Linked DNA regions of Homo sapiens: all the other regions are linked to region 1. The links come from fine-mapping of genetic effects on gene expression. A gene starts in region 1. Each other region holds a variant in brackets. All regions are shown on one strand. Distances are between the middles of the regions. Region 1 holds the start of NCR3LG1 (natural killer cell cytotoxicity receptor 3 ligand 1). Region 2 overlaps NCR3LG1 (natural killer cell cytotoxicity receptor 3 ligand 1). Region 3 overlaps KCNJ11 (potassium inwardly rectifying channel subfamily J member 11).

The links. PIP is the estimated chance that this variant, and not a neighbour inherited with it, causes the effect.
Region 2: its variant is fine-mapped to the expression of NCR3LG1 in esophagus mucosa (GTEx, PIP above 0.99).
Region 3: its variant is fine-mapped to the expression of NCR3LG1 in monocytes (Quach 2016, PIP 0.95).

The regions. Positions count from the first base shown.
Region 1 is chr11:17,350,458-17,353,108 of GRCh38, reverse strand. It overlaps NCR3LG1 (natural killer cell cytotoxicity receptor 3 ligand 1), which reads right to left and starts at 1,309. Exons shown (of 5, transcript NM_001202439.3): 1 at 1,070-1,309. The coding sequence starts at 1,139. It overlaps LOC105376576 (a long non-coding RNA gene), which reads left to right and starts at 1,243. Exons shown (of 3, transcript XR_931094.3): 1 at 1,243-1,330; 2 at 1,935-2,072; 3 at 2,198-2,296. RefSeq lists enhancers at 168-769, 770-1,371 and a silencer at 1,368-1,487.
Region 2 is chr11:17,377,326-17,379,976 of GRCh38, reverse strand. NCR3LG1 (natural killer cell cytotoxicity receptor 3 ligand 1) reads right to left here. Exons shown (of 5, transcript NM_001202439.3): 5 at 2,636-2,651. Among named protein-coding and RNA genes, the nearest start is that of KCNJ11, 10 kb to the left of the region's middle. RefSeq lists an enhancer at 593-1,792. The variant G/A (reference allele first, on the strand shown) is at 1,237.
Region 3 is chr11:17,382,669-17,385,319 of GRCh38, reverse strand. KCNJ11 (potassium inwardly rectifying channel subfamily J member 11) reads left to right here. Exons shown (of 1, transcript NM_000525.4): 1 at 1-72. Among named protein-coding and RNA genes, the nearest start is that of KCNJ11, 4.7 kb to the left of the region's middle. The variant A/G (reference allele first, on the strand shown) is at 1,659.

The sequences.
Region 1 (2,651 bases):
AGCAAGGGCGTGGTGTGAAGCTGCCGCCAAGGTCTCCACGGTGAGGTCCACACGCGGCTCTCCTCCACCTGCAGTGACTCGGGGCGCCCAGAGCGCGCCTCCGGGATTCCTACATTCCACCTCCACCACCCGGCACCCAGGAGCGTATTTTGGCCAGCCTAGTAAGGGTCAAGCAGCATCTTGTTGTTTAATTGCCATTCTTCTAGTTAGAAATGAGTTTAAATATCTCTACATACGCGTTTCAGCCTTTTAGTCTCCTGTTTAAGTTAACGCAGAACACGCCCATACGAGTTCCCAAAAAAGCAAGAGAACGTTTGAAGGTCACCACAAGATCAAAACACTCCCCTCCCTCTCTCAGTAAAGACCTAACTTAGCAAAGCCAGGAGGACCCACTGATATGCGGATGAATGATTTTTCCAATTTACCGATTCCCTGATTTTCTTCTCTCCTCCGGCCCCTCGGATGATGCGAGAGAGGCGCCAAATACCGAGGCACCAAACGCGCGACATCCAAGGAAGCACCGTTTCCGCTCTCACAGGTGTCGACCCTGCACAGGGCAGGCCTTCAATGTAAACCTGTTGCATCGGGGACTCCGCTTCTCACAAAGGAGGGACGCTTGAAAATAGAGCCCCCAGGCCGGGCGCGGGGGCTCACGCCTGTAATCCCCGCACTTTGGGAGGCCGAGGCGGCTGGATCACTAGGTCAAGGAGACCATCTTGGCTAACACTGTGAAACCCCGTCTCTACTAAAAGTACAAAAAATTAGCCGGGCATGGTGGCGGGCGCCTGTGGTCCCAGCTACTCGGGAGTCTGAGGCAGGAGAATGGCGTGAACCTGGGAGGCGGAGCTTGCAGTGAGCCGAGATCGCGCCACTTCACTCCAGCCTGGGAGACAGAGCGAGACTCCGTCTCAAAAAAAAAAAAAAAAAAAAAGGAGAAGAAATAGAAAAGAAAATAGAGCTCTCAGCCCCCAGGAAGTTGAGGTCCCCTGGCGGGATGCTAGGGAGCCGACCCGCGAGGACCCTCTGGCGCCAGGAGCCCCCGCCCCAGCCCACCCCAGCCGCCCCCTACCTTCGGTCGTCAGCGCCCACAGCAGAATCAGGAGCGCCGCGCACGTGGAGGCGGCAGCCCTCCACGTCATCGCCGCGGCTGCTGTTGTGTAATTTTTTTCGCCGAGTGGGAGCAGGCGGCCCGGTAGAAACCAAGGGCAGGGGGAGACCTCTGTTGCGTAAAGAGTTGACGGAGACACAGCCGGGATTTCCAGCCGGCGCTTTTGCACATCCCACTTCTTCAGATCCCTTCGGCAACTGCGAAGTCGCCTGGATTTCCCAGGTTCGCACTGCAGGAAGCCAGGCGCGTGACCAGCCCCACCCGCGCCGCACTTTAGCCCGGGGGCGGGCACCGGCCGGGGAATCCTCCCTCGCCTCCGCCCGCGGCACGAGGTTGCGCGGTTACAGCCCCGGTGCCTCTCGCGAGCGGCTCTGCGGTCCAGGACTCGGGGCATCCTCTGGGTTCGCTTAGTAAATTGAGACCGGGATCCAAGTGGCCCGGGGCGCTGCTCTAAGGAAGATGCTGACCGCAGTCGGTGATTGCGAGAGCAGGTGCACGCGTCCAGAGCGACATCTTACCGTTGGCGCGATAAACTTACATTACTTTAAAAACCAAAAACAACAAAAATTTAGCATTAAGTCGAAAGGCAAATTAAATCCCCAGGACAATTCAGTTAAACGCCTGAAGGTGGCCCTTAATTTCCCATTTCTACTAATCAAGAAGTGGCTTGCGACCTCCTGAAGCAAACCCAAATATTCTCATTCGGTGATTAAGTTTTACCACCTCTACACCAGTTTTTAAATCAATTTAACCGCAAAGTTCAGAACCCAAGTGGCACAGTAAATGTGTGTGCATTTATAACGCAGAACCTGCATTCTTTCCCCAGCAACCTGCATTCCATTTGTCTCATTGACCCTACTGCATTTTTCCTTCGCATCATTAAAAAGGATGTAATGTACAGAAAAGCACAGACAGACCTAAACTCCAATGCCAACCATGCCATCTGCTGATTATAAGACAGTGGGTAAGTGACCTCATATCCCCAGCCTGTTCACATGTCTCTAAAACTGAGAGAGTAAAAGCTTCCTTTCCAGGGTTAGAGACACTGTCACTGACTAAGCAAATAGTCACATTCTCACTTATCTGCAGAACAGAGTGCATACAGAAAGAGCTCAGAAGTGAAAGATGCGCAGAGTGCCCACAGTGGCAGCAACTAGCTGAGGGGCCTTCAGATCGCAGCCTTCCGGACCACCGTTATAACAGGTAGAGATATGCAAGGTTAAGTCCAGCTATTGAATTTTTAAAACCTAAATTACACCTCTTCTCAACCTCTGCCTCCTCCAAGGAGCCTTACCTGAGGAGACATCCTTGTCTGGTATTAGTGACATCATTAAATAACATTCCCAATGGAGGTATATGACGACTTCTTATACATGCCCAGAATAGTGATTCACAAAGTTGTGACACATACACATCACCCTGTAGAAATTATCAAATTACTCTTTTGGTAATTTTTACTGTTTTGGTAATTTTTTTGTACCCTTTTTACTCTAAAGGGTAAAACCGGCAGGTTTCTCTATTTATATTTCATTAGAATGAAAAG
Region 2 (2,651 bases), 27 kb before region 1:
GGAACACTGATGCAGATCCCTGAGATCTGTAGCTGGAGCCCATCAGCTGACTGCACTCCTCACACAGGCTCTCTCTCGAAGGGGGTCTCAGACACATCTCTGTGGCTACCACACTTCTTTTGGTCAAAGCTCAGCTTCCTGAGGAGTTGTAGCACTTAGCTTATGCTGTGTAACAAAGCCAGTATAAAACAGTGGCTTTAAAAAACATTTTAAATATTAATGTAATATTTAAAATGTTTTACATATTAAAAGTATTTTCCAAGTATTTGAGAGTTGGCTCTGCCAGCTCTGCTGATCTCAGATTTGCTCACATGGAGTCAGGTGGCTGTCATCTAATCTAGCCTGGCCTCCACTGGAGCAACAAGGATGTGGTAGCCAGCATCTCTCATCCTCCAGCAGGCTAGTCTCGACCTGTTCTTCTCCCAGCACCATTAGAAGCACACGAGGAAGCAAATGAAGACACACAAGACCTCTTGGGGCTTACACTTGGAACTGGCACGCCTTCACTGCTGTCTTCTTAAGTTGGCTGAAAGAGGTCACACAGTTAGAGGCACTACAAAGTTACACAGCAATGGACATGGATTCAGGGAAGGGTGTAGGATTGGAGTCATCTTTGCAAACAACTAAAGGATCCAGCTGATCATAAAGGGTTTGTTTTCTTTTTCCATAAGCATCATTGCTGATGTTGGGGTTATCAGCAATAAACTGATAGTTTTACAGTCTCACCAATGCACCACAATGTAGCAGTCTCTCATTGCCCAAGGTATCACCTGAAGTTCTTTGTCTCATAACCAAGAAAATTAAGGAGCATGGACCCCAAAGGTGAGGTTGGAGCAAAAATTTAAAAAGTGAAAAAAGAAAGCTCCCCACTGCCAAGAGGGGGCCCAAAAGAGTGTCGCCATTTCACAGTTGAATACAGAGGCTTTTGTAAGAAATTGATGAGTGCTGGGCATCTCATTTGCATAAAGCATGAATTTCTGGTAGTTCTACCCTATCCTCCCAGTGTGCATGCAGGCCCTTAGCTTGAGTTACTCCATATGGCTTTGTTCCCCTTACTGCGCATGTCTCAGGGAATGGAATTTTCCATTGTGGGCATCTCTGGGCAAGTCTCCTGTGTAGTCTTTCTTACCTAGGCAGCTGTGGACATGTCTAAGGCAAGCCTCCCTGTACAAGTTCTCTTCTCTGTGCCTGCAGTTTGATTTTTCAAGCTGTTCTTTTGTTTGGAAGAATTTTACC[G/A]AGGACCCACCCTAACTGCCTGTCTGACTGGTTTCTTCCTTCCTCCTTTCTCATTCCCTGCTTCAGGAGTGGAGACCCCAACTGCTGTTGGGGAAAGTGGACGATGACCACTCCTGGCTGCTTCCTGCTGGAAGGGGGCGTCGTTGGGGTTACAGCAGTTAGGGCTCCTCCTGAGATTGGTCTAAGGGTCCCCAGAAGAATGGCGTGTCTATGTGTGGTTCTATCTGCAGCACCATTTGGAGTTTAATAGCCTCTAAGTGAGAGGAAACAATTTGAGTTACAGTATTGAATATACAAAGTCCAAACATTAGTACAAAACACACGAGCAAAAGGGGGCCTAATAAAGGAGCTAACCAGTTCCACAAAGAAGACTGGAATCCATTTAAGAGGGATTGTAGCCAACTGGGACTGGAGCCCGCATTCTCTCTTAATCTGTCAATGTTCTAATTTGATCTTTAAGCACCTGTACATTCTCTTCTACTTGACTAGAGGTATTGATCTAGAAGTGACATGCTTCTTTTTAAAAGTGCACAGGTACCCCCTACTTTGGCCATAAGGATATCTAGGGCCTGTCTATTTTGCATAACTACTGAGGCTAAAGAGTTTATGAATTGTTGTTGTGCTTCTATGGCTCCTACTGTTAGCTTCTACCCTTGTGGCATCATAATAGAAATATTAAGTACTGATTTTTCAAGGAGAGGAATACCAGCAAACCAGAATAGGCCTCTGACTATAGAATCCCCTATCCATGGTTTTTCTGAGATAGGATTGTCATGTGCAGGTCCTACCCAATCTTCTCTTTCAGTTAAGTCTCCATATGAGGGCATGGAAATGATAGACCTCTTTGTTCAGCGCATCTGAGATAGCACACTCACTAGAAAAGACGCTAGGCTAGGGATGTCCCCAGATGATGCTGCCATATCAGTGGAATTTAAAGATAACAGGTCAGGAACCACTGCCACGATAGTGCAGGTTCCCTTCCAGTGCCTAGGGAGGATTAAGTGTAGCCAGGAGCCACAAAGGAAATAAAGCCCTGTCCCCTGAAGGGCCAGTTCTAAGTTGTAGCTTGTGAGAGACACAGGCAGATCTTTCTCATATCTTAGAAGCTTCCCCCTCCTGCATGTAATAGGAACATCTTTGGGATGGGGATATCTATACTCAGGATAGTCACTCACGATGCCATTTGGAATTTTACATGCTAAATGAGAAAGGTCCACCTGATAAATTGAGTTTTGTTTGTTTGTTTGTTTTTTGAGATGGAGACTTACTCTGTTGCCCAGGCTAGAGTGCAGTGGCACAATCTTGGCTTTCTGCAACTTCTGCTTCCCGGGTTCACGCAATTCTCCTGCCTCAGCCTCCCGAGTAGCTGGGACTACAGGCATGCACCACCACGCCTGGCTTTTTTTTTTTTTTTT
Region 3 (2,651 bases), 32 kb before region 1:
CAATAAATGTTAACTATTGTGATTGCTGCTGAATCAGCTACATGCTGAGGAAACGGCCAAACAAGTGTTAAAGAGAGACGGTGCTTTTATTTTGCCCTTGGTCATGTTTCTTTGCCAGGTCTTTCTTTCCACACGGTGTCCCCTCCTAGCTGAGACCACGATTTTAGGGGCTGTGGCAATGCCTGTGACCTGGTCCCCTTGTCTCCATCTCACCCACTGTAGTCCATCTGCCACACAGCCTCCAGGGTGGTCTTAGAAGGGTGGGTCACCCCCCACCCTCATCATGAAATACCTTCGGTAGTTCCCCATCACCTCTGGGTCAAGGCTAGCTTCTTAGCAGCCATTTCAGGCTGTGACTGCCTCTCCGGCCTTATGGCCCACTGTTTTCTTGCCAGGAGTCTGCACTTGCCCACCCACTTCCCTAGGTACCTCGCTGTCCTATCCCTCCTGACACATAATGTTGAGCTTCCTACCTCCCAGACCTTGCTTATGTTACTCCCTTGGCCTGGACTGCCCAGGCCTCATCTCTGTCTGTTGAAATCCATAAAAATCCAGGCTGAGTGATGCCTCCTCGAAACCTTCCCTGATTTCTCTGGAAAAGGAAGGTCCCTTCCCTCTGCTGTGCTGTGGGCATTCTCCTTTTGCCTACGTTTAGGGGTCTGTCTCCCCATCCACAAGTCCATGGCTTCCTGAGGTCAGGGACTGTGACTCAGCACTGTGGCTGGCTTACATGGAGTAGGTGCTACATGAATGAACAAATGAATGAATGAATAACGGATGGATGGCGTACAGGACAAAAAGCCAGGGTTATTGCTACAGTGTGAGGCCTGCAGACAGGGCATCAGTGAGGGTCTGTCTCAGGCGGCTCCAGAGGCAGGGCCAAGGGGCCAGGAAGTTGCCGCTGCTGGTCTGAGCTCTAAGCTGCCCTCTCCCAGCACCCATGCAGTCCCCAGCGCTGATTCCCTTCCTTGCAGAGCTGACCCATTTCTGGTTTTGAGGGTGAAGGGGTGAAAGCTACTCAGAGTCAGCCCAGGATCCTAGGAGGCTGGCTCTTGCGACTCAGCTTGGCTGCCATTAAGGCCAAGGAGAAAGGCCAGACTCACTAAGGACCTGCTGGCAGTACCATCCTTGGAGCCCAAACCAGAGTAACCTTCCTCCACCCCTCAGGGACCTTAAGCTGCTGGTGAGTGTGAAGCCCACAGAACTGAGGGCTTAGCGCCACCTGCTGGCCACAGAGAAGACTTACTTCGGCAGAGAAAAATCAGGACCACTGGTCCTAGGTTTTCCACCAACTCTGAGGGAGACCCCCAGCCTTAAGGCATAACCCAGGGAGGGGCTGGAAAGCTCCAGGCATAGAGAGGCAGTTCGACCAAGCCTCCCTCCTCCGCGAAGGTGTTCTTGCCCACTGATGGTGCTACCTCCATCTGGGGGCACCCTTTCTCTATGGCACTGGCCTCAACTGGACAAAGAAGTTCACCTGAGCACTACTCAGCCCAGCAGGAACTTCTGTGATAATTTTGTTTGTGATATTCTGCCTCCAGGATTGCATCCCTTAGTCATCATGTGACAGCAGAGGAAGCAGTCTGGCCCATCCACACGCTATGTGCAGAGCTGTCTCAACTCCAGGGCCCCTGAAAAGGAGAAGGGAAGTACCATGT[A/G]TCACTGTGGCCCAGCAGGACTATGAGAGAAGCACTGTTCTTCTTTGAGTTTGTAGATGAGGACACAGGGTCAGAAAGGGTGGTGTCTTAGACCATTCAGGCTTCTATAACAAAATACCATAGACTGGGTGGCTTATAAACAATAGACATTTATTACTCACAGTCTGGAGGCTAGGAAGTCCAAGATCAAGGTGCCAGTGGATTCAGTGTCTGCTGAAGGGCCTGTCTTTCCCCTGTAATCTTACATGGTGGAAGGTGTGAGGGAGCTCTCTGGGGCCTTGTTACATAAGGGTACTAATCCCATTCATGAGGATTCCACCCTCATCACCTCCCAAAGGCCCCGCTTCCAAATACCATCACCTTGGGCATCAGGATTTAACATGTGCATTTTAGGGGGACACAGACATTTAGCCTATAGCAGGAAGTAATTTGCTAAGATCTCACAGCTAGTAGGAGGCAGGTCCAAGATTTCAGCCAAAGTCTGTCTAATGCCACAGCCCTGCTCTTCCCTCCCCCTCTTTCCCCTAGCACACAGTCCCAGTGACCTAAGCTCCAGCTTTTAGTAGGGCTGCACCTTGTTCTAAGTGTCACATTCACCACAGGGAGAAAGTTGTCTCCAAACCAAGGGAAAGAGGGAAGGTGGAACTCAGCAAGCCCCTGGGCCTCCCTGAGATCCCAGATTGGAAACTGGCAGCAGGCTTGGCTGTTTTGTGACAGCCTAGATTATGTCCAGAACACCTATGGAGTCAGAACAACCTCACTGGCACTTTTTCTGGCCCACGTGCATGATGAGCCCTCCATCTTCTTCCTTCTTACAGGAAGACTGGGCTCTTTGCTTTACAGGCTCTTCTTCCAGCCAGTCAGGTGTCAATGCAGCCTGATTGGGCACATCTGCCACCCATCTGTCCCCAACTCATATCAATGGTGTGAGACATGTCCTGGGCCTCAGTCCTGAGCTTCAGAGGGAAGGCAAGCCAGGCCACCCTCTTCCTG